Homo sapiens: one gene and its partners. The protein of the gene in region 4 interacts with the protein of the main gene of each other region in a biochemical or structural test. Each region holds a gene or a part of one and is shown on either strand. Other genes may lie near its edges.

The links.
Region 1: of the proteins of PDHA1 (region 4) and SIRT3, one has a biochemical effect on the other in vitro, tested with the Homo sapiens proteins (one study listed by BioGRID).
Region 2: of the proteins of PDHA1 (region 4) and PDK2, one has a biochemical effect on the other in vitro, tested with the Homo sapiens proteins (one study listed by IntAct).
Region 3: of the proteins of PDHA1 (region 4) and PDK3, one has a biochemical effect on the other in vitro, tested with the Homo sapiens proteins (one study listed by IntAct).

What each region holds. Positions count from the first base shown.
Region 1 is NC_000011.10:214,506-219,358, forward strand, and holds the end of SIRT3 (NAD-dependent protein deacetylase sirtuin-3, mitochondrial), read right to left. Parts: exon of another isoform or gene 4,537-4,853; coding exon 4,327-4,536; coding exon of another isoform or gene 4,273-4,326; intron 2,214-4,272; coding exon 2,193-2,213; 3' UTR 525-2,192; downstream 1-524.
Region 2 is NC_000017.11:50,090,843-50,098,350, reverse strand, and holds the start of PDK2 (pyruvate dehydrogenase kinase, isozyme 2 isoform 1 precursor), read right to left. Parts: upstream 3,001-7,508; 5' UTR 2,916-3,000; coding exon 2,798-2,915; intron 2,657-2,797; exon of another isoform or gene 2,541-2,656; intron 2,220-2,540; exon of another isoform or gene 2,065-2,219; intron 929-2,064; coding exon 787-928; intron 454-786; exon of another isoform or gene 1-453. UniProt on the Homo sapiens protein: Kinase that plays a key role in the regulation of glucose and fatty acid metabolism and homeostasis via phosphorylation of the pyruvate dehydrogenase subunits PDHA1 and PDHA2.
Region 3 is NC_000023.11:24,468,254-24,475,293, forward strand, and holds part of PDK3 (pyruvate dehydrogenase kinase, isozyme 3 isoform 2 precursor), read left to right. Parts: intron 1-7,040. UniProt on the Homo sapiens protein: Inhibits pyruvate dehydrogenase activity by phosphorylation of the E1 subunit PDHA1, and thereby regulates glucose metabolism and aerobic respiration. Can also phosphorylate PDHA2.
Region 4 is NC_000023.11:19,353,916-19,360,955, reverse strand, and holds part of PDHA1 (pyruvate dehydrogenase E1 component subunit alpha, somatic form, mitochondrial isoform 1 precursor), read right to left. Parts: intron 6,466-7,040; coding exon 6,373-6,465; intron 5,608-6,372; coding exon 5,452-5,607; intron 5,271-5,451; coding exon 5,199-5,270; intron 3,305-5,198; coding exon 3,237-3,304; intron 2,041-3,236; coding exon 1,932-2,040; intron 1,468-1,931; coding exon 1,303-1,467; 3' UTR 208-1,302; coding exon of another isoform or gene 123-207; 3' UTR 1-122. Other genes in the region: MAP3K15 (mitogen-activated protein kinase kinase kinase 15), read left to right, coding at 123-207. UniProt on the Homo sapiens protein: The pyruvate dehydrogenase complex catalyzes the overall conversion of pyruvate to acetyl-CoA and CO(2), and thereby links the glycolytic pathway to the tricarboxylic cycle.

The DNA of each region.
Region 1 (4,853 bases), on a different chromosome or scaffold from region 4:
ATTTGCCTCTGGTCCAGTTTCTCATCTCTGGACTGCAACGGTCTTCTTGTGCTAGAACTCAGGCTCAGCCTCGAATTCCACAGACGAAGTACTTTCTTTTGTCTGCGCCAAGAGGAATGTGTTCAGAAGCTGCTGCCTGAGGGCAGGGCCTACCTGGGCACACAGAAGAGCATATGGGAGGGCAGGGGTTTGGGTGTGGGTGCACACAAAGCAAGCACCATCTGGGATTGGCACACTGGCAGAGCCAGTGTGTTGGGGTATGTGCTGCACTTCCCAGGGAGAAAACCTGTCAGAACTTTCCATACGAGTATATCAGAACACACCCTTCCAAGGTATGTATGCTCTGTTGTTCCTGTCCTGTCTTCACTGAGCGCAGGGCTGGAGGCCTCTTAGACATTCTCCTTGGTCCTCGTTCAGCTGCCCACTGTAGTATCCACAGTGCCCGAGTTCTCGCTGGTTTTGGCAATTAAACCTCCTTCCTACTGGTTTAGACTACACTTACAACAAGGAAAATGCCCCTCGTGTGACCATAGATTGAGATTTATACCACATACCACACATAGCCACAGAAACATCATCTTGAAATAAAGAAGAGTTTTGGACAAAAATGTATGTGTAAATTATCAAATAAAGGGGCCAGGCACAGTGGCTCATGCCTGTAATCCCAGCACTTTGGGAGGCCGAGGTGGGTGGATCACTTGAAGCCAGGAGTTCGAGACCAGCCTGGCCAACATAGCAAAACCTTGTCTCTATTACAAATATGCCCATGTGCTAGGTGTGGTGGGACACACCTGTAATCCCAGCTACCCAGGAGAATCGCTTAAACCCGGGAGGCGGAAGTTGCAGTGAGCTGAGATCATAACACCGCACTCCACCCTGAGTGACAGGGCAAGACTCAAAAAATAAAAAAGGAACATTAACTAGGGTTAGAAACTAACTTCATTCTTTTTAGAATTCAACAGTTTTCCTAGGTCACCAATTCCACCTTTTGTTCTTATTAAGGCGCAAAGTCACAGGACCCCCTTCCTGGGAGTCACTGTCATTAAATCTATTGCCGTCAGCTCAGCCCAGGGTAGGCAAGGTTCAAGAATGGGAAGTGCTTTTGTCTGGGGAAACACGCAGGTAATGTGATGCTAGGAAGGAGGATGTGCAGGTGGGTGAGAGCCCAGGAGGGAGCAGCTGGTGCCTGACAGGGTGAGCCATCAGGGCTGGGCCTGGGTACAGCCCCAGGAGAAGGAGCCTGTGCAGAAGTAGCAGTTCAGTGGATTCCACCTCCTATGTCACAATCCAGCAGGTGGCCAGGACTCAGCCTGGGTTTTAAGTGAGTAATGCCTTCCCTGTCTCAGAGATTAGCTCTAACAGTGTCACTAGAGGAAGCCCTGGCGAGGGTGGGGGGGCGTAGTGTGGGGACAAGGAGGCCAGATAGAAAGTGCTGGAATGTTCTGGAACAGATCTGTTTCTGGAGGAGAGGCTGAGTATGGAGAGTCAACAGAATGTGACCACCTTCAGAGGGAGGAGCTGGGCCGTCTCCAATAAATCCAGGGACAAATGCCTTCAGTCCTCAGACTGTTCCAATAGAGGGGACGCCACGTATCCCAGGGTTCCCTTTCCAACTCATGTCAACACCTGCAGTCCCTTTGAGGAGACTAAATGTATTTCATGCTGGAAAGAACAGATTTTCTCTCATTAAAAATAGCCCCACTAAAGGAGACCAACATGCTAGAAGTGCGGCACCAGGGCCTCAAGACTACACTTCGGAACATGAAGAGGGCTGGGGACCGCTCGGCCCAAGTCTGGATCTTGTAACCAACAGATGCCGAGCTTGCCGTTCAACTAGGCACAGAAAGCAGACTCGGTCTGGGATTCCAGTTGGTCTGATTCAGTTCAAGAGGGTCACAGTCAGAAGAAAGCTTTTTCCATTAGGAGCTTCAGCAGAGTGAAGAGTTCAACACAGCAAACAGGCAGGCAGCTCCTTTGTATATGTGACGGGGTGGCCCTGACTGTAAACACAGCCCTACCAGTCACTGCAGCTCATGGCCTGAGAAGACATTCCAGTGGCAGCCTCGGGTGTCCACTCAGTTCACATATTCTGGTTTCACCTGCCCAAGCTGTCTTCAGGCATGAGGTCTTGTCAGAATTGGGATGTGGATGTCTCCTATGTTACCATTTATTGTGTGGGGGCAGCCATCATCCTATTTGTCTGGTCCATCAAGCTGGAATACAGAAGACAGAGGGTATCAGCTATCTGTTTACACACCCAGGCAGGCCAGCAGATCTCTGTTCAAACAGCTCTAGCTGCAGACATGCAAAATATTTCACAAAACAAGCTGCTTTCTGCAAATACTGCTGCTGCTGTGCTGGGCTAAGAGGATCCCAGCAGGCCTGGGCAGAACAGGGTGGCTAAATGGAGAGCCTCATTCTATGGGTCTTAAAGTACCCAAATCAATATGTACTGATGCTCATGTGCTTAAAAGCATTCACTATTTGGAAAAGTAACCCCTTGGATAGTAATGCTGTAAAAAACAGAAAATGAAATCATAACCCATTTTACATACATTTCTCTGAAACTAGATTATACAGTTCAAATCCTATTAAGCCACTTCCAAAACTCCACAGGAGCTACCAGAGTTACAATCTGCTTTTCTATGAAAACAGGAAGTTGGGCCGGGCCTGCTGGCTCATGCCTATAATCCCAGCACTTTGGGAGGCTGAGGCAGGTGGATCACCCGAGGTCAGGAGTTTGAGACCAGCCTGACTAACATGATGAAATCCCATCTCTAATAAAAGTACAGAAATTAGCCAGGCATGGTGGCACATGCCTGTAATCCCAGCTGCTCAGGAGGCTGAGGCAGGAGAATCACTTGAACCCAGGAGGCAGGGCTGCAGTGAGCCAAAATCGTGCCATTGCACTCCAGCTTGGGCAACAAGAGTGAAACTCCATTACAAAAAAAAGAAAATATGAAGTTGGAGCAGGAAAAGGATCCCTCAAAAAAGCCTGCTGGGCTGATCTAAGATCTCCGCTGCCTTGTGAGCTGGCCAGGAGGCACTCGCCTCTCAGCGTTTAAGCCTCATTGTTAGCTGGGTTCCCTGCCTCCATAATGAAGTGACCATGATTGGTAAAAAATCAGCCTGCAACCAGAGGTTGGAGGTCTTGGACTGGTGGAGGTGAGGAGAGTGCTGACCCCATGGCCCTGAGCCATGAGGCAGCCACAGCTGTGGACAAGGAAAAAGGATCAGGATTTCCTAAGACATCTGCCTTGGAAGGCAAGAGGAGCATCAACTGTGATATATTGTAGTTGATATGGTTTGGCTGTGTCCCCACCCAAATCTCACCTTGAATTGTAATCATCCCCATGTGTCAAGGGTGGGGCCAAGTGGAAGTAACTGAATCATGGGGGCGGGTCTTTCCCACACTCTTCTTCTGATAGTGAATAAGTCTCACAAGATCTGATAGTTTTATAAAGGGCAGTTCCCCCGCACACGTCCTCTTGCCTGCCACCTTGTAAGACAGTACTTTGCTCCTGCTTTGCCTTCCACTATGATTGTGAGGCCCCCACAGCCATATGGAACTGTGAGTCCATTAAACCTCTTTCCTTTATAAATTACCCAGTCTCAGGTATGCCTTTATGAGCAGCCAGAGAACAGACTAATACACTGGTGAAATCCCCTTTGGACAGTGTTACACCTGCCTGTAATCATGACACTGGACTTTAAATGCTTAATGCTACCACCTCCCATTGAAAACCCTTAATATCAAGGCTACACATGCTACATGATTCTTATGGGAAACTGCATTTTCTGTAACTTCACTTGTTTATAGGCGGTTTGAAATCTCTTAGAAAGCATCAAGGCTCTTTGGCTTTCCTCAGCGGATTATAATTGATCAATGGCTCTCATACCAATTACTTCCGAAAAGCATCACTCATGTAGCCTTCATCCCACATAGATGCAGAGAACTTTAGCTTCTCAAAGTTCTTTAACCCGTATCATCTTAGAATCACATACCAGGCCTTAGAGGGACACTGTTGGCTGCTTTATTTTAGGGAGTGAAGGTAACGCCTATAGTCTGTTAAGAATACAGACTCATCAGCCCTGAGTGTCTGGACCGTGTCCCTGCTTGGCCTGTTAGCATCTGTTTCCTCATCTCTAAATGGAGGTATTGAAAGTAACACCCAGTCAGGTCCAGGTAGTGCCTGGTGCAGGATTCACAGCATCATCAGCTATTACTGTTACTGTGTTAACCAACGGGGCTCCATATCAGGTGGACCATACCCTAGAGCAGTGAGAAGGGCAGCCCCTTGGATGGTCCTCCTCAGCAGTCTGTACCTTCCCAGTTTCCCGCTGCACAAGGTCCCGCATCTCTTCTGTCCAGCCCAGAAGCTCCACTAGGCTTTCCACGCCGTGAACCACGTCCCCCAGCTGGGCCACGTCCCTGCTGCGAGGATGCCAAGCCAAGGGCCCCACCAAGTCCCGGTTGATGAGCAGTCGGGGAACTGAGCTCCGCACGGCCTCGGTCAAGCTGGCAAAAGGCTCCACCTGAAAAATGGGCCAAACGTGAGGGGCACAGTGTCCACTTTACAAGCTCCTCAGGATGTTTCATGCCACAGCCACCGAGGCCTTGGAGGAGCAGCAGATTGGCAGTCAGAGCCTGCGATATAGGGAAAACCCACCACCAATCTCATTTCTTCAGCTGAGCTCCTGCCGCTTGGCCTCCGTGACGGTTTTCTCCCCTCCGCCTCTCTCTCTCTCTCCCACTTCTTGCTGTTTCCACACATCCTTGCTTTTCCCCACCTCCGTTCCAAGGCTCATCAGGGATCCAACCTTCCTGCCTCCTCTTTGTGAGCACGTTCTGT
Region 2 (7,508 bases), on a different chromosome or scaffold from region 4:
TACATGTGGGCACGTGCTCCTCAGTCTACAGGGAAATCACAACTATATCATACTGCAAGTCCAAAAGAACCAGCCCAAGATTTCTGCAAGGGTGCCACCAAAGTCAATGAGGATTAGCTATTTACATGCCCAGTGACAAGGGACACCCTTGTTTATTCTTCACGTGACTGGCCTTTGGCTAATTTCATCCAGTTACTTAACTTGAGTTCTTGAGTGAACTCTGCTGAGCCTTTCCCTCTGTTCCTGCTGCAGTGCGCAATAAACGTTTGGTCTTTGCCCCTCCAAAGCTCTTCGGGAAGGTACTGTGCCATCCTTGTGTGTATCTGAGTATTTTCCAACATCCAAAACAGTCTGTCTTGCAGCTTGGGTTATATAATGTATTTGAAAACTTACTTCTTGTTTCTGCTTCCCAAAAAGTTACCCCCAAATAAATACTGCCTAACAGTTACTGGAGTTCCAGGTCTGGGCTGCTGGCTAATGCTGACATCAGCCTGAATTGGGGTTTTGGCTGTGAAAACCATGCTTTCCTAGGTGGATCCTGTGTTTCCAGAGAAAGGTGGGTGGTAAGAAGAGGGCTAGACACAGAGACTAGGAGCTTGACCTCAGTCCTGCTCTGGCCTCAGATTCCCACGTGACCCTAGGCAACTCCAAGCGCTTGGGGCTTTGGTGTCTCCTGTCTGTCCCCACCCCACCCTCAAAGCTGCTAAAAGCTTGGAGATGCCATCCCTGAGCCCAGGGACACTGGCGATGGAGTGGGAGGTGCAGGGACTGAGCCAGGGGTCTCACCAGCTCTGCACCAGCTGCACGGAGGGTGTGCTCAGCACTCGGTCGGGAAGCAGGTTGATCTCTTTCATGATGTTGGCCAGGCGCACAGGCAGCTCCTGCCTGAGGAAGGTGAAGGAGGTTTTCTCACAGGCATTGCTGGATCCTGGCAGGAGAAAGAGGGGTGAGCCACAGAGCCACAGACTATGAAAGCCAAAGGATGTCTCGGCCAGGTCAGCTAAACCCTTCATTAACAGGGGGCTCAGAGAGCAAGTGACCTGCCCGGGGCACACAGCAAGGCTCCCCATCCCCTGCAGGGCTCAAACACCTACACCCCATGCCTAACACTTCAGGAGGTGTCATCCTCTCCTCATCCCCAGCTGAACCCTGCTTGCCTTTAACCACAGTGGACAGGGCCACTCCTGGGCCCATTTGGAGCTGCCTCTGGCCTCAGTCACCTCACTTCTCTTTCCTTCCCTCCCAGCACACTCACTTTGAGGGGCTGATTCCAGGGGACAAAGGAGCCTGGGAAACCCATCCCTACCTAGGACTGGGCTCTGGCTGAGGGGGGCTATGGCTAGACCACCACTGCAGGCTCCCAGTGTTGTCTCTGGCCAGCCCACCTCACCCAGCCTGGCCTGAATGCCCATGTGGGGCTGCTGTGTCTTAATGCCCATCCATGGGGCAAACGGGCCTGAGAACAGGAGTCCAAATGCCTCGGTCCTTGTCTGGTGTCAAGATGGAAAGGGTGGGGGACCGAATATGGCCTTGGCCCAGGGTCAGGGGCCCTGGGTTCCAGTCCATCAGGCTCTGCTTCCAACTCTGTCACCCAGGCCATGCCATCATCCTTTTGAAGGTCTCAGTTTCCCCCATAGTACTACAAGTTGACCAAACTCTACTGTGAGCCCCTCACAGCTGTGATGTTTCTGTAATTAGGGTGCAGTTTGTGGGGACAGCTGCTGGGGGCTAGGGGTGGGCCCAGGAGGCTTTCCTACATGGGGGAGGCTCAAGACTCAGGCAGGGCAGGGGTGCAGGCAGACAAGTCCTGAGGAACAGGTGCCTTATGTCTCGGCTGCCACCTCTCTGTTCCCGTCCCATCATTGACGCAGCTGCAACCCAAGCTAGGCACTATCAACTCAACTCTTGAGAGACTGCCCCCCACCCCCAGTCCCCAGCTGGCACCATGGAAATACCACATAGACAGACAGGGCCCACACAATGCCCATTTCAGCTGCCACGTTGGCACAGCCTCCCTCCTGCCCCAGGGCCACCCCCAGGTTGCTGGTAGTGGGCGATCCTGACCTAGCAGCCCTGGGGCAGCCAAGGGAGGTATAGGCGGCTTGACTCCACATCACGGTGCCTGGGGCCCCTGCCCAGCTGGGGAGAGGCTGCCAGGCCGGAACAGATTTGATCTTCAAGTGTCCTTGCCCACTGGGGCAGCTAGGGTCCAGCTCCTTCTGTGGGTGGATGTCTACCAGTCAGGGCACTGTCTCCCAATGGCATCTTCTGAAAGAGCCCCCTTCCCCAACTGCCCCTGGCTTAATCTCACCCTCTGCCCAGGGGTGTCTGACCCTTCATGCCCAGTCCAGGTCTCTCTACAGATGGCTGCACCTCTAAACCCTGCCTCCTCACTCCCACCAGCAGACCCCCGGTTTCCTCTGGTGGGAGGAGGGGCCCCTACTCCTCCAGTCATGAGGACAACTCCCATTAACCCTTTCGCGTCTGGATACCACCCTACTCCCTTCCTGCAGTAACATCACAGCTTCACTGCCCCTTACTCTTCAAGACCCTTCATGAGGCCCACGAAGAAACCTCGGGACCGTCCTTGTAAATGCCCCCCATTCCCATCAGCAGCCCCGTCGAGAGGCCCCGGCCGGTTCCTGCTTCCCCATTAACTCTTTCCTGCCTGTACCTTTCCAAACAACCCTTCTCTGTCACTCGGGGCCTTTCTTCTCCTCCGTCCCCCTAGCCCCCGGCTGCCCCTCCCAGCGCCCCGCCGGCCTCCGCTGCCAGCCGCCTCCCGCCCACTCCGTACCGAAGTCCAGAAACTGCTTCATGGACAGCGGGGACGGGGAGAACTTGCTGAAGTGCTCTATGTACTTGGGCGCCCCTGCCAGGGACGCATTCTTCAGCAGCGCCCACACCCAGCGCATGGCTGCGGCGGCCGCGACTTTGGTTGTGGTCCCCGCGCGGGCAGCGCTCGCGCACCTTTCGGCCCAGCGACGCGGTTCGGCCGCCTCCTCCCTACCCTTGCCCTGGCGGGCATTCCAACGCCCAGCCAATCGGCTCGTCATGGCGCCTCGACGTCGCCAATGGCCACTCACAAACAACTCCGGGCGAACCAATAGCCTTCCGCCCCGGCACGTGGCTTCCCCCGGGCCCGCCCCCTTAACCCACGCTTTGCCGGGGCGGCCTGTTGTTTTGGGGAGGCCGCGCCGAGTTCCCACCTCCCCTGTGTTCACTCCTCCCTTTCCTCCGCGGGGCGAAGCCCGGGTTAACCCCTTCCTTCCCAGAGCCCCGCCAGCCCTTTCGCTTCCTCTTCCACGCCTGCCTTTCCCTTGCTACCCCCTCGCATCTCCTTCACCTGCAGGCTCCTTTTAACCCTTCCTTTCCAGAGTTGTCTAGGTAGCTTTCAACCAATCCCTTTTCTCCAACTCAAAGGTACCTGTTTCACCTGTCATGATCGTTACCTATCCTCCCTTAACGGGTCTTGGGGATTCCCAGTCCGGATGACAGTGACCCAGACTGCGAATATTTGCAAAATTCGGAACCAGGGTGCAAGCCTATACGAATCCGTCCTGTATATATGCAGCCCACCCGCTTCCACAAAGATCCAAGCGGCTCAGGAAAAGGCGGAGTTTGCTTTTCCAACTGAAAAACATCCAGAGTAAAAACCATCACTACTAGTGGCGGTGGAGGCAGCAGCTATCGTCCATGCCAGTTAACACTTTCATTTTATTATACAGCTCATCTGACCGAACATAAAGCCTTGGACATCTAGCGCGACCACCTGAGAAAGCCACCTCCTTCGCACCGGGCTTCCTTAGAGCAAGATCCCAGGAGGTGAAGTGTCTCTGGGAGGCCCGGAGCCCGTCCTTCATCAGCGGCCCAGCTTCTCTTGGAGAAAATGTGACGCGCCCTCTTGTGGCCGAATGTGGTATCTCCCATCGTGGGTTTAGGGCCCGACCCGCCACTTTGATGCTTTCTTTGCTCGGTGACATTAGCCTAATACGTGTTAGGCTTTATGCTGGGAACAGGGAACACAGACAGGATCAAGAAATGGCCTTTTTCCTCGATGATTTCATTTCTAAGTTTCAGAGATAGCTACATAAGTAAATAATTAGCTATAACTGAATGTGATTGTAATACAGACCTCACAGAGCAAAGCTTCACATATGGAAGGGCCTCTTAGCTGGATGAATAATAAGCTATATGCCAGGCACTGTTTACAGGCATTATCTCATTTAATTCTCTATTTTATTATTCTTAGCCTCATTTCATAGATAAGAAAACCGAGACTCAGGGATCATTCTCAACTGCAAATCTGACCTTATTACTTCCTTGCTCACAGCCTTTCAATGGGCTATTTTTTTTTTTTTTTTTTTTTTTTTTGAGATTGAGTCTCCCTCTGTCGTCCAAGCTGGAGTGCAGTGGCACAACCTTGGCTCACTGCAAACTTCTCCTCCCAGGTTCAAGCGATTCTCCTGTCTCAGCTTTCCAAGTAGCTGGGATAACAGGCATGTACTACCATGCCTGGCTAATTTTTGTAATTTTAGTAGAGACAGGGTTTCACCATGTTGGCCAGGCTGGTCTTGAATTCCTGACCTCAAGTGATCTGCCCGCCTCAACCTCCCAAAGTGCAGGGATTACAGGTATGAGGCACTGTGCTAGGCCATCAATGGCTCTCTTCTTCTTACTGGAGCCTTTCCAGTTGTCACAAGTCGATTGACTTTTGCTTAATTCTCCAGACTCCTCTCTCTACATTCCCCCATGCAGCTCCCAGCCATACCTGTCTGCTGCCTTGAACCAGCCTCTAATCTCTAAGCCACTGCAAATGCATCTCTTCTGTCTGGATCATTCTTTCTTCCCACCTTCACCTGCCCATTCTTCAGGTCTCAGCTGCTTAGTCATCCCTTCCTCCTGGAAGCCTTCCTTGATCCTGCCAAGCTGGGTTATAGGCTCCCTTCAAGGGCTCCTTAGATCTCCTGGTCTTAGCAAATATTCGCAGTCTGGGTCACTGTCATCCAGACTGGGAATCCACAAGACCCCTTAAGAGAGGACAAGGAAAGATCAGGACATGTGAAACAGGTACCTCGTCGAGGAAAGGGATTGGCTGAAAGCTACCTGGACAAATCCAGGAAGGAGGGGTTAAAAGGAGCTGATGGTAGCTCTTATCAATTGAGTGAAAATTGTTTGCCAACTGATCTGTTTTCCCGCTAGACTTTAAGCTCCGTGAGGGCAGGGCAGGGGTTGTATCTGTCTTATTCACTGCCCTATCTCTAGCATCAGGCAGTACTCAGCACCTAGTAGGGAGGACAGGGTGAAAAAGAAGACAGGGCAAGCAGAGGAGCACACCACAGAGATATTCCAGAGAACCACCAAACATCCACTGGGCTAGCAATTAGGACGTGATTGATGATGCTGGTGAGTGCAGTTTTCAAGTGCACAGAATAATATATAGAATATTATGTACAAAAAAACCTGGCCCTCACTTTGGGAGGCTGAGGTAGGAGGATTGCTTGAGCCCAGGAGTTCGAGACCAGCCTGGGCAGCATAGCAAGATCTTGTCCCTACAAAAAATATAAAATTAGCTGAGTGTGGTGGCATGTACCTATAGTCCCAGCTACTTGGGAGGCTGAAGTAGGAAGATTCCTTGAGCCCCAGAGGTCAAGGCTGCAGTGAGCCAGAGCCATGATTGTGCCACGGCACTCCAATCTGGGTAACTGACTGAGACCCGGTCTCAAAAAAAAAAAAAAAAAAAAAAAAAAAGGCTTATTTCTGTGCCTAGCAATAAATGGTAGCTATTGCTGTTATTGTCAAAATTAAAGTAACAAGGAAAAGGCCGTGGCCTCTAAGGCTAGGTGTAGGAGAGGGAAAGAGATTTCCCATGACCCTCACCTTAGGCTGGACTTCCATAATGTGGGCTCTGTGCTTGGATAAGAACTCTTTCTGCAGAGCCTGCTGCAGGGTGCTAACAGCAGTGGTGTGATGTGGTACATCATAGTCAAGTTTGGTTAGGTGATGCCGAGGTAAACTGCACCCCCACCGATTCCCAAATCTCCCACTATATGTACAGTGTGGGTTGGTGGGGGGGGACTCTCCAAGGAGCTCAAGAAACTTGGCATTGCAGAGGGTTCTTTTACAGTGGGCATTGCTATATCTCTGCCAGTTATGTTTCTTTCATAATATGTAGCTCACGCTAGTTCTGAAAATGACCTATCCTCAAGAGTGTGTGTGTGTGTGGGGGGGGTCTTCCTCAAGCAGTGGCTCACAGGAGACTAGGGGGTCTGTGAAACTGGCCAGAGGGATGTGTCAACACCCCTGTCTTAAGCAGGAAGTGGCTGTAAGGACAAGACTGGGCCGAGCTTTGACAACCCACACATGTTATGCCCAAAGAACTGGATCCCAGATTCTAGAAAATAAAGTGTGGTCTCCATTCACTGGGTTCTGAGAGCTTGGCAGCTCCGGGTAGGGGCTAGGGTTTTCCTTGGGAAAGTGGACATTCCATTGTCAGTCACCCTGGGAAGGGGCAAATCCCGGCACAGAAAGTGAGGAGAGGGAAAGGGGCGGACATTGGGCCCAGAACCCTGTTGTGAGCTGAGCGCTGGTGGAGGGAGGTGGGGCAGGCAGCTGCCACCACAAGGAGGCTGGGAGGCACCCAGGCATCAGGTGGGTCTCCCAGAACAGCCTGGGTCTGTGAGCTCTGAGCATATCTGACCTGGCTTCTACCTCTGCGCTTCTCTGGGTAGCAATTTCCAGCCTCCAGTGAAGTCTTGCCAAAGTTCACAGCCTTAAGGAAAATTAACAGAAGGACCTAGGCCACATTCCAGGTCACAGGGGGAACAGCCTTACTCCATTCCCCAGGCCTGTGTGGAGGGGACAAACCGAGGGCAAAGGAGGAAGCTGCTTTGGGAACCCAGGACATGGCAGGAAGCAAAGCGAAGGCTTGATCCACGTGCTGTTGCCATGTAAGCCAGGCGCTCAAACACTCCCAAGGAGCTTCTGAAAGACCAGAGCTCTCAGCTCCTGGAGGCTGGACCTTGTGACAGTTCAGTCTCTGCAGCCTTGGATCAGTGGTTTACCTTCTGATCTCTTATTGGCGTCTGGTGGTGGTTGTGGGGAAACCAAGGCAGGAAAGCAGGCTCTTACCTGAATTCAGCCCGACTAAGGGCTCTCCTCTCTCCACCCTTGCACCCAGCCTCCCTCCACAGCCTGCCAGGACTGCCTGTTCCTACAGCTGAGTAGCTTTTACCTCTTCCCGACCCTGCACACTGCCACCTCTGCCTGCTCGTCCCTCCCCAGGGTCAGCACGCTGTCCTCCAAGAAGGCGTTCTGGGTTTCATCCAGGTCTCCCAAGGCTTACCCCTCATCTTCTGTTCTGGATCTCTATGACTGACCCTTAGATGAGAGGATTCCTGAGAGCAGGGGCCAGTGTCACCTCCATCAATCTTTTTATTTTTCTTTGAGACAGAGTCTTGCTCTGTCGTTCAGGCTGGAGTGCAATGGCACGATCTCGGCTCACTGCA
Region 3 (7,040 bases), 5.1 Mb from region 4:
AGGGGTTCCTGAGCCTCAGCACTCTTGCCATTTCAGGCCAGGTAATTTTGGTAGGAGCTGTCTTGTGCACTGTGGGAAGTTGAGCTACATCCCTGGCCTCTACCCACTAGATGCCATGAGCACCTCCCACTCCAAGTCGTGACAACCAAACATGTCTCCAGTCATTGCCAAATGTCCCCTGGGGGAGCAAAATGTCCCCTGGACTTCTGTTGAATCACTGTTTGGAAGTGTTTACTTGAGTGGTTTTCAGGCCAGGGCCTCATACTCTGAATTTTTGTTGTAAATGGTCTGGGGGTGCTGGGGGTGGAGAGCAGAGCACTGGTATTTTTAGGAGATCCCCCTGTCATTCTAAAGCATATCCAGGGTTAAGCACCATTAATCAGATGATCTTCTGTCTGATCTGCTGGCCCCCTTTCATCTATGTGCAGTATTTTTCTCTATGCTTTTTAAAATAATGAAAGTTTCTTGAACTCCATCTTGACTTGAAATATAGCCTGCCACACAGTTAGCAAATATAGCAAGAATAACAAGTGTTCTAAATGGATTTTTAATTTATTATGGCAATAGTACATTCCAAAGGGTGGCATTTTTTAAAATGAGATTTTTCTTTTGGGCCTAAGATTACAGTCACATGGTTCCAAATTCAGAGGGTTCAAAAGGACACAGAAAAGCCTGCTTCCCACTTGTGCCCACTGGCCTCCCCTTTTTTCGCATAAATGGCAGTTTATAGCTTTGTCTGTTCCTTGTTTTTTGAGCTTAATACCTTAGAGACAGATTTTTGTATATCTGTACCTGCAGAACTTTGTTTTTCTTTTTTATGGCTTCTGAGAATTTGGTTATATGAATGTACCAGAATTTATTAGCAACTTTCCCTATTGATGGCTACAATTAATAGGTTGTTTCTAGACTTTGCTGTGGCAACCTGCCCTCCAGTGAATTATTATATGCATTGTCATTTCATGCATGTCCGCGTGTATCTGTAGGACAGATTCCTAAACGTGAGATTGCTACATCAGCAGGTATGTGCATTTGTAATTTTGGCGAACATTGTCAAATTGCTTTCCATAAAGGTTGTTTGTTTTCCCCCTCGCTAGAAGTTTCTGAGAGTACCTGTTTTCCTATGCCTTCACCACATTGTTGTCAAACTTTTGATAGGTAAAAAAAAAATGATATATCTAGATAGAATTTTTTTCTCCTTGAGTAAAGATGTCTTTATTTTAGTTTTTTATTGTGGAAATTAAAAAAAAAAACTTAGGTGGGTGCCTGTAATTCCAGTGCTTTGAGAGGCCAAGACAGAGGATGGCTTGAGACCAGGAGTTTGAGGCCAGCCCTGGGCAACATAGTGAGATCCTGTCTCTAAAAAAAATAATAATAATAAATAAATAAGATTAGCCAGGAGTGGTGGTATCGCACACCTGGGGTCTTAGCTACTCAGGAGGCTGAGACAGGAGGATGGCTTGAGCCCAGATTGAAGCTGCAGTGAGCTGTGTTTCTGCCACTGCACTCCAGCCTGGGGGATGTACATGTATAGGTAAATACATATATAAATTTTATTGTGTATAATTAAGGTATACAACATGATGTTATGGGATACATATAGTTAAAAGGTTACTACAGTGAAATTAACATATCTATCATCTCACATAGTTACCCTTTTTTATTTTTGTGGCAAGGTCAGCTAAAATCTACTCATTTAGCATGAATCCCATATACAGTACAATTTTATTATCTATTATATATTCTTCATGTTGTGCATTAGATCTCTAGACCTTAAACATTTACAGAAGTAGAGAGAATAGAATGATGAACTCCTGGGTTTGTTTTATTGATATCCATTTGCTATTTGTCTGTAGATGTTGTATGTGTGGTCTGTTAGATTTTCTGATCAAAGTCATGCTTGTTTCAAAAAGATAAATTTTTGTTTTCAAAAAGATAAATTTTTTTCTTTTCCTATGCTAAGACTAATTTATCTTTTGAATTATCTGGTTCTTAAAGATTTGGTAGAACTTCATATGAAAGTGTTTAAGCCTGTATGTTTTGGGGAGTTTTGCTCTCTGATAGCTTTCTCTATTCTGTGTTATTGATCTCTGTAGATTTTCTGTCTCTTCTAGAGTCCATTTTGATATATTTTTCTTGAAAATTATCCTACTTGGCTAGGCGCGGTGGCTCATGCCTGTAATCCCAGCACTTTGGGAGGCCAAGGCAGGTGGATCACATGGGGTTGGGAGTTTGAGACCAGCCTGGCCAACATGGTGAAACCTCGTCTCTACTAAAAATACAAACATTAGCTGGGCATAGTGGTGGGTGCCTGTAATCCCAGCTACTGGGGAGGCTGAGGTAGGAGAATTGCTTGAACCCAGGAGGCGGAGGTTGCAGTGAGCCAAGATCATGCCCTTGTACTCCAGCCTGGGTGACAAGAGTGAAACGGCATCTCAAAAAAAAAAAAAAAAAAAAAAAGAAGAAAAGAAAAAAAGAAAATTATCCTACTCATTGAGGTTTTTAAGTCAGTTTGGATAGCTGAGATAGTTGTCACTGAACAGTCTTAATTTTCCCTGTGACATTTGTCCCCCCCCTTCTTCTTGAGTAGGTTAGTTGATGATTTATTGGGTTGGATTTATTAGTTTTATGACTTTTGTTATCTAGTTTATTGTCTGATTTGACTTTAATAATTCCTTCTGGTCTCAGGTTTATTTTGTTCTTTTAAAAATTAGGTGCTTTCTGTTCTCACTCATAAGTGGGAGTTGAACAATGAGAACACATGGACACGGCAAGGGGAACATCACACACCAGGGCCTGTCGGGAGGTGGGGGGGCTAGGGGAGAGATAGCATTAGGAGAAATACCTAATGTAGATGACAAGTTGATGGGTGCAGCAAACCACCATGGCACGTGTATACCTATGTAACAAACCTGCACGTTCTGCACATGTACCCCAGAACTTAAAGTATAATAAAAAAAATTAAATGCTTTCTTCTTTGTCTTGTTTATTTCAATGTTTAAGGTTAGTTATTCCTCTGAGCACTGCTTTAGCAGCTGATGTGTGTATTTGGTCTTTTTTCTCTTAGCTCTTCTGTGTCTTCAGGTTTTTATTTTCCTATGAATGAAGAGTTGTTTGGAGGAGTTAAAAATTTCCAGTGAAGGTGCATTCTGCATTTTAATTTTATTTATGTCTAGTTTTGTTGCACTGTGATTACAGAATGTTGTCTGAATTATTCTCTAATTTATTGATGTTAACTTTGAAGCTCATTATATGGTTGTTTTCTGTGAATGTTCCTTGGGCAGCGAAAAGAAGGTTATACTCTCTTCTCAGGTTGCAGAGTGTGATATGTCAGCTCTGCAATATTATGTTATTTAGGTTTTGTGTAACTTTACTTTTTTTATCCACCTGATTTGTCATGGATCAAACACAAGAGAAGTTAAAGTCTCCTAATAATGATTCTCTTTCTCCGTATAGCTCCTATTGTTTTTGCTTTATGACTATCAGTGTTATGTTTGATGCTTATTAACTCACATCCTCATTGTGAGATATACCCATTAGCATTAGAGTGCTGCCCTTTTACTAGTTGAAGGCTTTTTGGCCTGGATTCGTCCTTATTTGACATTGAGATCTAGTTCCCTATTTTCTTGTTTACATTTCCTGGGATAGCATTGCCATCCTTTTATTTTCAGTTTTTCTGAATTACTTCGCTCTAAATATGTCTCTAAATGTAGTGTAAAGTTGGGTTTTGCTTTGTGAATCAGTCTTTTTCATGTGGTAAGTTTAACCTATTTATACTTACTGGTATGATAGATCTGTCATCTGTAATGATAAGCATTTGTAATTTTCTGTTGCTTTCTGTTTTTAATACCTCAGTTTTCCTATGTTATATATTTGCTTTGTTTTGCCATATTTATTTTAATAAATAACTAGGCTTGAATTTTTGGTTCTAGTGGTTATCTTTATAGTTATTACTTTATTTCTATAGACCTTTGTCCCATATGGGTCACCACTTGTCAGCCAGGAGACCTTTGAGCACTTGAAATGTGGCTAGTGTGGCCGAAAAACTGAATTGACTTAATTTAAATTTAAAATGGATACTTGATGCAGTTAATTTTTACATCTGTGTAGAATAACTTGGATATGGAATCCACTTTATCACCTGTAAATTTTAGGAAATCTCTTTATAGGTCAATTATTTCTGATAGAAATTTAGCCTCTGAATTGAGATGTGCTTTCAGTATAAAATACACACTGGATTTCAAAGACTTAATATAAAAATAGTAAAATATCAGTACATCTTATATTGATTGCATGTTGAAATGGTAATATTTTAGATATGTTGGGTTAAATGGAATATTATCAAAAACTTTATTTCTTTTTTATGTTAATGTGGCTACTAGGAAATTTTAAATTATATATATGGCTTACATATTTCTTTCTTTCTTTTTTTTTTTTTTTTTTTTTTTTTTGTGAGACGGAGTTTTTGCTCATGTTGCCCAGGCTGGAGTGCAATGGTGCGATCTGGGCTCACCGCAACCTCCGCCTCCCAGGTTCAAGTGATTCTCCTGCCTCAGCCTCCCAAGTAGCTGGGATTACAGGCATGCGCCTACATGCCCAGCTAATTTTGTATTTTTAGTAGAGATGGGGTTTCTCCATGTTGGTCAGGCTGGTCTTGAACTCTCGACCTCAGGTGATCTGCCCACCTCAGCCTCCCAAAGTGCTAGGATTACAGGCATGAGCCACAGCCCCTGGCCTGGCTCACATATTTATATTGGACAGTGTGGCTTCAGATAATATATGTTAATTCCTTATTGGGAGCAATGAAAACATCACATTTTAATGTTCAGAATAAACATTTATTGGCTGGGTGCAGTGGCTCACGCCTGTAATCCCAGCACTTTGGGAGGCCGAGGTGGGTGGATCACGAGGTCAAGAGATTGAGACCATCCTGGCCAACGTGGTGAAACCCCGTCTCTACTAAAAATACAAAAATTAGCCAGGCATGGTGGTGGGCGCCTATAGTCCCAGGTACTCGGGAGGCTGAGGCAGGAGAATTACTTGAACCTGGGAGGTGGAGGTTGCAGTGGGCCAAGATTGCGCCACTGCACTCCAGCCTGGCTAGAGTGAGACTCCGTCTCAAAAAACAAAACAAACAAACAAACAAAAACAAAAAAACCAACCACACATTTGTTGAATTTATTTATTTATTTATTTACTTATTTGAGACAGAGTCTCACTCTGTCACCTAGGCCAGAGTGCAACGGCTTGGTCTTGGCTCACTGCAACCTCTGCCTCCCGGGTTCAGGTGATTCTCCTGCCTCAGCCTCCCGAGTAGCTGGGATTACAGGTGTCTGCCACCACGCCTGGCTTATTTTTGTATTTTTAGTAGAGACGGGGTTTTGCCCTATTGCCCAGGCTGGTCTCGAACTCCTGACCTTAGGTGATCTACCCGCCTCTGCCTCCCAAAGTGCTGGGATTACAGGCATGAGTCACCGTGCCTGGCCTGAATTTATTTCCTGAAATATAACTTTCACATGTCTTGTTCCATATTTTTTTCTATAAACCTCTCTGGATTTTTGGATCAATGTATTGTTTTTGACTGGCAGTTAATGTTATGGTGGCTCCTTGTTATATTTGCACAAATTTGAGTTCTCTTTCCCTTAAGCAGTTGTGATAAATTAAAAATTCTCTTAATTATATAAGAAAAGGAGAACTTGGACTATTATGGCATAAAGATAGAACCTTCTGAATGTTGAATGAGTTGGTAGGAAATGATTCACATTTTCTTTTGGACTTGCTTTTCATCTTTCAGTCTCGCCCTGTCGGCTTCTGGTTCCCATATTAACCACTTTTCTCCCCTCCCTGCAGACTGACGTCCCATTTGTTTGATTTTCCAGTTACTTTTGCACAGCCACACTTGCATTAAAGAGATTTTGCTCCTGCCTCCTTTTCTTAGATTTTATCCTCAATTGTCTCTTTCCAAAGGGCAGGCGCTCACCTCTTTTTTGTAACCTCTTACAGCTTCCTCAGCTCAGCTTGCTCTGCACAGAGCAGGTGCTCCATAAATGGCAATTACTGATGGCATGCCTGACTCCATATCGAGGTTATTAAACATTATGCCACTTTCATTTAGTCAGTTATATAAGTTTATTTTATTTATTTATTTATTTATTTATTTATTTATTTATTTATTTATTTTGAGACGGAGTCTCACTCTGTCGCCCAGGCTAGAGTGCAGTGGCACCATCTCGGCTCACTGCAACCTCCGCCTCCCAGGTTCAAGCAGTTCTCGTGCCTCAGCCTCCCGAGTACCTGGGACTACAGGCATGCGCCACCACGCCCGGCTAATTTTTGTATTTTTAGCAGAGACGGGGTTTCACCGTCTTGGCCAGGCTGGTCTCGAACTCCTGACTTCAGGTGATCCACCCGCCTCTGCCTCCCAAAGTGTTGGGATTACAGACGTGAGCCACTGTGCCCAGCCAAGTTTAAACTTCCATAGTGTCCCCATGTGTAAATATAGCATCTCTCAAAACCACCAGAAAGCAGATTGCTGATAGCCCTGCCGTCTTTTCACAAAACTAAATATTTTGATTTCTGTCATAATCACACCGGCTCTGTGAACCTCAGAGCCTTTAGCTCTTAGAAGGTAGCGGCCAGTTTCCGCATTCTTACTATTCTTAAAGTTTAAGGGCCCAGCCATCTTCTTTTCCTTTAGAACATATTTTAAGATACTTTGGAGATACTTTGGTTCCAAATGACTCCCTTTCGCAAAGTCTTGGCTTTTTAAGTCATTTTGCTCCTTGAAGCCTGATCACCACTGGGGACAACAGTGATTGCGTTCTTGGAGAAAATGGAAAGGTTTTTAAAAAAATTATGTTAGGAAAAGGGAAAAACAATCTCATTCTGCTTCCGAGTGTGTTTATTTTGTACCTTTACATATGTAAATGACAGATTTTTTTTTTTTTTCCCTGTAAGCAGTAGTTTTTCTGCTACAAGGTGTCACCAAGAATTAGACCAACCTGTTTGGAGAAAGGGATCAACTATTCAGAATTAAAGGGGAA
Region 4 (7,040 bases):
CGTCACCTCCATATGTGAGGAGAATGTTTTTATTTTCATTAGGTTTTTAAATTAGGGACTGCAGTTTTAAGCTCTGTTGGCTTGAAGCACTGACTCTGAAGACAGCTGTGTTTGTTTCCCAGGGGTGGTCTCCTCTGCAGACTCTGGAGTGCGGTCTCCCAGTACAGAAGGGCTCAGGAGGCCTCAGAAACCAAAGACAAGGCTTGATACCAATCAGCTAAGCTGTGGCAGAGTGTCCCACCACGCTACATGTTTTGTTAAAGCTTCTGTTAGTGTATACACGAATTCCGCTGTGTTTACATATTTAAAAATGCCATTGTTCAATTAATAGTTTAAGAACTTGTTTTAAATACTGTCCTGAGTTTCTTTTGAAACCTGTTATTTATAAACATAGAACTGTGTGTATTGTGAAAACAGTGAGCCTTGGTTTTGACCTCCCGGAATATTAGGAAATTCACTTGTAGTCCCAGCTATGCAGGAGGCTGAGGTGGGAGGATTGCTTGAGCCCAGGAGGTGTGGAGGCTGCAGTGAGCCATGATCACACCACTGCACTCCAGCCTGGGCAACAGAGCCCGACCCTGTCTCAAAAAAAGTACACCCTTCAGCACTTGCTGGAATGGTGAAACAAACAAGGGGTATTTAACAAACATGGAAGCTGGGACACTGCCTCAGAACTGGTATGGTACTTCAATTTGAGAAACACAAAACTGATACGAATGTGCCTTGTAGTTAATGTTTGATATGAACAGAAAATAGCTTCATATTTATACTGAATGTGTAAGTAGAGAAAACTAAGTTATGTGGCCTTTGAAATGATTACAAAATTGGAATGATTACAAAAGTCTTATTTTAAAATGGAACTGTCCTCTTGCCTGATAATAAATATTGTATCTTGTAGAGAAATGGTCAGCGCGAACAGGCTGCAGCACCAGCGCTGCTCGGGGTGGGTGCTATGGTTGGTAGAATGCTGTGAGGGGCCCCGCCATAATGGTCTCCTCCCAAAAAGGTGGCTGGGGGCAGGGGAAACAGGCATACAAGGAATTGTTCTTCCTTTTCATAATTAGAGTATTTGTTCAAAGTATACTATTTTAAGTCAAAAATAATCTTTAAGCACTCAATAATTCATCTTTTAATGCACTAATGTACAAACTGCATGCAATTACTACCTGCTCAATCTACACACTTAATGGAAGTTTCCAAGAATTTCATTGAATTTCATTGACTGGGTTTTCTTCCTCCTTAACCAAGTTGAGAACACTGTCTGGTAGCCCCCTGAAGGTATAACCTCTCCTTCTCCTCCCCTTAACTGACTGACTTAAACTTGATCCACTGATTGGCACCACGAACTTCAAAAGGTGGGTCGCTGGAGTAGATGTGGTAGCCCAGCTCTTCCAAAGGTGGCTCAGGATCGGCCGTGGCAAACTGGGCAGCATCCTCAATCTCCTTCCTCACTTCCACATCAATTTCCTAAAAATTAGGTAACAGTGTAAAAGGTTTTAGAATGAACAGCAGCTTAGGTACCAACTAGAGTTCTGCTGAGGACCTGTTGCTGGTGTAACTCTTTAACTACAAGTACGAACAGTTGCTAATTCAGAAGATTTTGGAATACAGATTTCTAGGGTGTATCTATTTTATGAATTAAAAATCCACAGTATACTTTTAGGAAAAAAGAACCATACTACTGTGGGGGCTTTGCCACTGTGATGGTGGTTCACAGTCCACCAAAATCTGAAATCTGAAGAGTAATACAATTTTGAATAGAGGAAACTAAAGGAAAAGCCCCCACCCCAAGGGACTTTGGAACTATGGAACTATTTATGTCCCAGGACATCACTTTCTGGGCTTGGAGGAACCCACACAAACTCTGTGGCCACCCAGGGGTGGCAACTTTTAAAGCCAACCTTCAAACCACCATGAACAAGTGACTGTACCTTTAGTTCTTCCACACTGGCAAGATTGCTGTTCACCATCCTGTCCTTGAGAAGCATAATAGGGTCACTCTTACTTCTTACTTCCTGAATTTCTTCTCGTGTACGGTAACTATGGGGAGGGAAAAGTAGTAATCGATCAGTAAGAGCAGTTCCAGTAGAGCAAGGACGGCGTGATGAAACATGATATGGGGTTGGATTGTCCCAATGAGGTGAAATACAGAAGTGTGTTTCTGAAACAAAGGGGCATACCAATGCTTATGTCACTATAGGCGTGGCAGAGTTGTTGTTATACTTTCAAAATACCAGAACGCAGCCTAACATTCTGTAATAACTGCTTCTGTCTTTTCTAGAAAACCGTACACTGGTGAGTCACATGGCTTCCCTGGCATTCCGACAACAGGGGCCAAGTTTTTGCTTGCTGCTTTGATTTAGATGTAAGGTTCTAAAGAAGTGTCACTTGTCCCACCCATTTGGGCTCCTGTATACTACATGGGTGGGGACAGCAGAGATGGTGTGTGTGGTGATAATTAGACTTTGAGACATCAGAGCGCCAAGCAGGAAATCCATGTGCCTTGCCTTTCTCCCTTAAGTCCCCCTAAAGAAGCACAGCCAGCAAAACCAATGTATCTTATGCCTATATCATCTGAAGTAACACTAAAAGGATTCTACCATTTTCAACAATAGATTTACACAAAGTGCATTTTTCCATATACTGTGCTCTCTACATGATTTTTCCTTAGAAGTCCACTCTACAAAGGCTTATTTATTCAACTGTGTCAAAACTGGGATTCCAGAATCACAGGCCAGAGCTACTAAGCAAAAAAGTAAAATTCATGCCTTCCTAGTGGAACCTAGCTTTTTTGATTGATGTATTTCAACGGATTGAACACCCAGTTACCCTTAGCTCTATACCAGACAGAGGAACATCTCCAAATTCTGATCCTCTTCAGGTAGAGTATGCCAGGTGTAGACTTGGGGTAATGCCTACAAAAGCTAAATGCCCCCAAGATACTACACTACCATCAGCCCTGTTTTATGTAACAATTTCCCTCTACAATTAAGGTATATAACACTCTTTCTTTAAAAATTGCTGCTTGTGCTCACACACACTATACACTGTAGGCATTTTCAGAAAGCTTTCTTATTAGGAGGCACTGCTTTCAGATAACTTGATGCCCAACACAACTGCGTACATGAAGTGAACTGGTATCTAGCTCCAAAAGCAAATACTGAAATGTGTTGCTTTTGCCATGTAACACCATTCAAAGCCCACCCCTATGGAAACCACACTGCCCATGAGCGTACCTGACTCCAGGGTCACTCATACTGTGTCCGTGGTAACGGTAAGTCTGCAGCTCCATCAGGATGGGCCCCTAAAACAGAACCGGTAGGCAGTTAGTTAGTTAGGAACGATGACTGGAAGAACAGGCCGGCAATCCACGGCCTCAAACGCAGGCCCTTTATTAAGCGTCCAGTGTAGTCTTATCAGATCTTCTGAGTTGTCACGAATTTCTTATTGGTTGACTGATCTGTTCTCATTTCTAGCAAGTATTGATTGCATATTTCATCTTTCTCATTTTTAATAAGGCAATCTGCCAACAGCTTGTTTTGAATCAAAAAGGCTTTGAAGGCCAGGCATGGTGGCTCATGCCTGTAATCCCAGCACTTTGGGAAGCTGAGGTGGGCAGAGCACTTGCGCCCAGGAGTTCGAGACTAGCCTGGACAACATGGCAAAACCCCATCTCTATCAAAAAATACAAAAATTAGCCAGGCATGGTGGCGTGCGCCTGTAGTCCCAGCTACTTGGGAGGATCACCTGATTCTGGAAGGTCAAGGGTGCAGTGAGCTGTGAGTGTGCCACTGCGCGAGACCCTGTGAAAAAAGAAAAAGGCTCTGAGCATGTTCTAGAGCCTCCTGCTATTGGCTAGACAGATTTCCATCTCATGCTCCTTTCTCATGGTGTGTTGTGGGGCTGGCAGCCACTCCTACTTCACAGACCTTGCTAGTGTGTAACAAAGTTGGCAGGCACCAACAACCTCTGCTACCCAAACCCCAAGGCTCTGCTGGGAGTCTGGACAGTTGGGCTCGCTCATTCTACACTAGCCCACTTCCAGGAGACGGCTCTGAACACTGGGGTGGAGAAACATTGAGGATCCTTGGTTGGTTTGGTGCAGCAGTTAAAATGGGCGAGTGGGGAGCTGGCTCCAAGACAGAGTAGCTGTGTACCTTTAACTGCTCTATGGCTCAGTTTCCTTGTCTGCAAAATGGGCAAAACAATAACACCTAACTCAGAATTGTGAAGGTTATCTGTTTGGGAAAGTCACACATTCTACAACTACATTCTACAACTCCCCTTGTCTCCAGCCAGGGCTGGCCCCCATGTATTCTTTTCAGGAATTGGGAGAGGTGGCGTCAATACCCATCACTCAGGGCCTGGCACTCCCAGCCTTAGGGTCCTGACATAGACTGCTCAGCCCATTGTACCCAAGCTGTAGTCTTGGTCCTGCTCTAGTTCATTCTACTCATTAGCTCTTATTTAATGTTACTACATTCCCACCCTCACTTCCCTGTCTCTCCACTTTGTGACATTTCCATCATTGCTGGCCACATCTGATTCACATCACTGCCTAAACGTACATGGTATGGCGCTGAAGTGCCAACTTCAGAAACCTTGTTTCTGGGCTGTAGAACACTGATTTAGGGAGAACACCCAAACCTCCTAAGCCTATACTAGTGCCAAAGGAAGTGAAACCTCTTTAGGCCAGTCTCCCTCTTACCATCTCCCTCACTGCCATACACTGAAAAGGGAAAGATCCTTAGGACTGAGCAAGACTAAGATTACGAGCTTCTACCATACTGTTTAATTTGTATAAGACACACATATTAAATGCCTATTGTATACATGACATTCTATGCTGGACACTGTGGGGATCCCCAATCTGTTCCTTCAAGGGACTCATGATTAATGGGGGGTGGGGAGGAGGGACAGAATTAACCTAAGGAAAAGGCAAATCAGTTGTCATGAAGACAGGCCAAAGCAGAGGAAGCACCAGAACGGACTTCCCCCAAATGAGAGAAACGTAGGCTTCCCAGCAGGTGAGCTACCAAGACCAAGCTACCCAAAGGAGCCCTGCTCCCTTCACTCTGCTTCCATCTCATGCACCTCAATTAGCAGGTACCCACTAACAGCTTCAGCAGGCACATGGGAGGCAGTCTTTGAACTTCCAGAGATAAATGTCACTAGCCCAGAGGGCTTTAGAGCCTTACCTTCCCAGATCTACAATAGGCAGCAGCAAACCTTGTTGCCTCTCGGACGCACAGGATATCCATTCCATCCACCTGGTAATAAACAGGGGAGGGGCGAAGCATGAATCCAACTGCCCCAAACCATTTTACTTTCACATGACCTGCTCCTGTATGAGAATGAAACTCTCCAATGTTTCTAAGATCGTCAAGGGTCTGCACAAGGACATACCCTTGGCCTTGGCCTTGGCCCCGGCCCCACCACAGGTGTCCTTACTCTCAGCCCAGGAATGAAATCGCCTCTCTTGTAGTAATCAGTGCTGGCTGCCGCTCTCTCAACAGACGTTCCCATTCCATAGCGATTATTCTCACAGATGAAAATACAAGGTAATTTCCACAAAGCTGCCATGTTGTAAGCTTCGAATATCTGGCCCTGGAAGTAGTTACGAAAAGGGGTTTCATTTGGCTTCTTTCTCCAGGCTTCATCATCTCTAACAGCTGCTGCTCTGCCTGGCACAGAAAGCTTTCATAAAGCACAGAAAGCCTCCTCTTCTAAAACCGAGCTTTGGGTGGTGAGGGAAAGCGGGGTGGGTGGTGGAGGAGAAGTAGCAGGCATCATACTCTTGCAACTAAGGAAGGTGACAAACCAACTACTACTTGTTTCTTTGGGGCCATGCTAGCAGTAAGGAACACACTGGAAAAAAGATCAATATGAAATCTATCAGGCCCACTGGATAGCCAGAGTGAACCAGCACCTAAGAATCAGCCTCTAGAACAGGGCTTCACAGAGTGCTGGCCACAGACTGGGGATTACTCGGTAACAAGAGAAGCATAGAAACTGAGTTAGGACTCAGACGCTATTATCCGAATTTGACACTGCCAGCCCGGACATCCAAGAGAATGGGTCTGTATTGTTTTGCAATAGGTTGTGGGGAGGTCCTTTACCACAGGGCCTTTGCCAAGCACTGATGTAGAGCAAAGGTGAGCTCCTTCACAGGAATGTGCCCCCGTAAGTCTCTTGTGAAACAACGCTAAGAGGTCAATCTCTAATCTGGCCATAAGTCAACCAAATTTGAGCTAGCCATAGGACTTGCTATTTCACCTAATAAGCAATATGCTACTTCTTTAGAAATTCAACTGTAAATATTAAAGACTTTGAAAATAAGACTGTTTTTGGGAAGTTAAGAGACATAATTACCTGGTTAGCAGCACCATCGCCATATAAAGTCAGGCAGACCTCATCTTTTCCATTATACTTACAGGCTAGAGCAATCCCAGCGCCCAGGGGCACCTAACATTAAGGACAACCGAGAAAGGAACCACAGAAATCCATGAGGGGAGATACTAATTAATGCCCTGCATTTTCACTCCTGGCCAGAATCTGACACAGAAATTACACTGCTGCTACAAACTCTCCTTCCAACCCTATCTCTCTGTTTATCCCACCTCCGATATTTTCAATAAAGCACTAAAGTAATATATAAATACTATGTTCTATTTTAACCAGTAAGCACTAACATTTCTGCATTCAAGAGTTAAAAAATAAAACCTGGCCGGGCGTGGTGGCTCACGCCTGTAATCCCAGCACTTTGGGCAGATCACGAGGTCCACAGATCGAGACCATCCTGGACAAGATGGTGAAACCCCGTCTCTACTAAAAATACAAAAAATGGTTGGGCATGGTGGCACGTAACTATATTCCCAGCTACTCGGGAGGCTGAGGCAGGAGAATTGCTTGAACCCGGGGGTGGAGGTTGCAGTGAGCTGAGATTACACCACTGCTCCAGCCTGGGCGGCTGAGCAAGACTCCATTTCAAAAGGAAAAATAAAACCTAGGTTTAAAAAAAAACAACACATAATAGAATC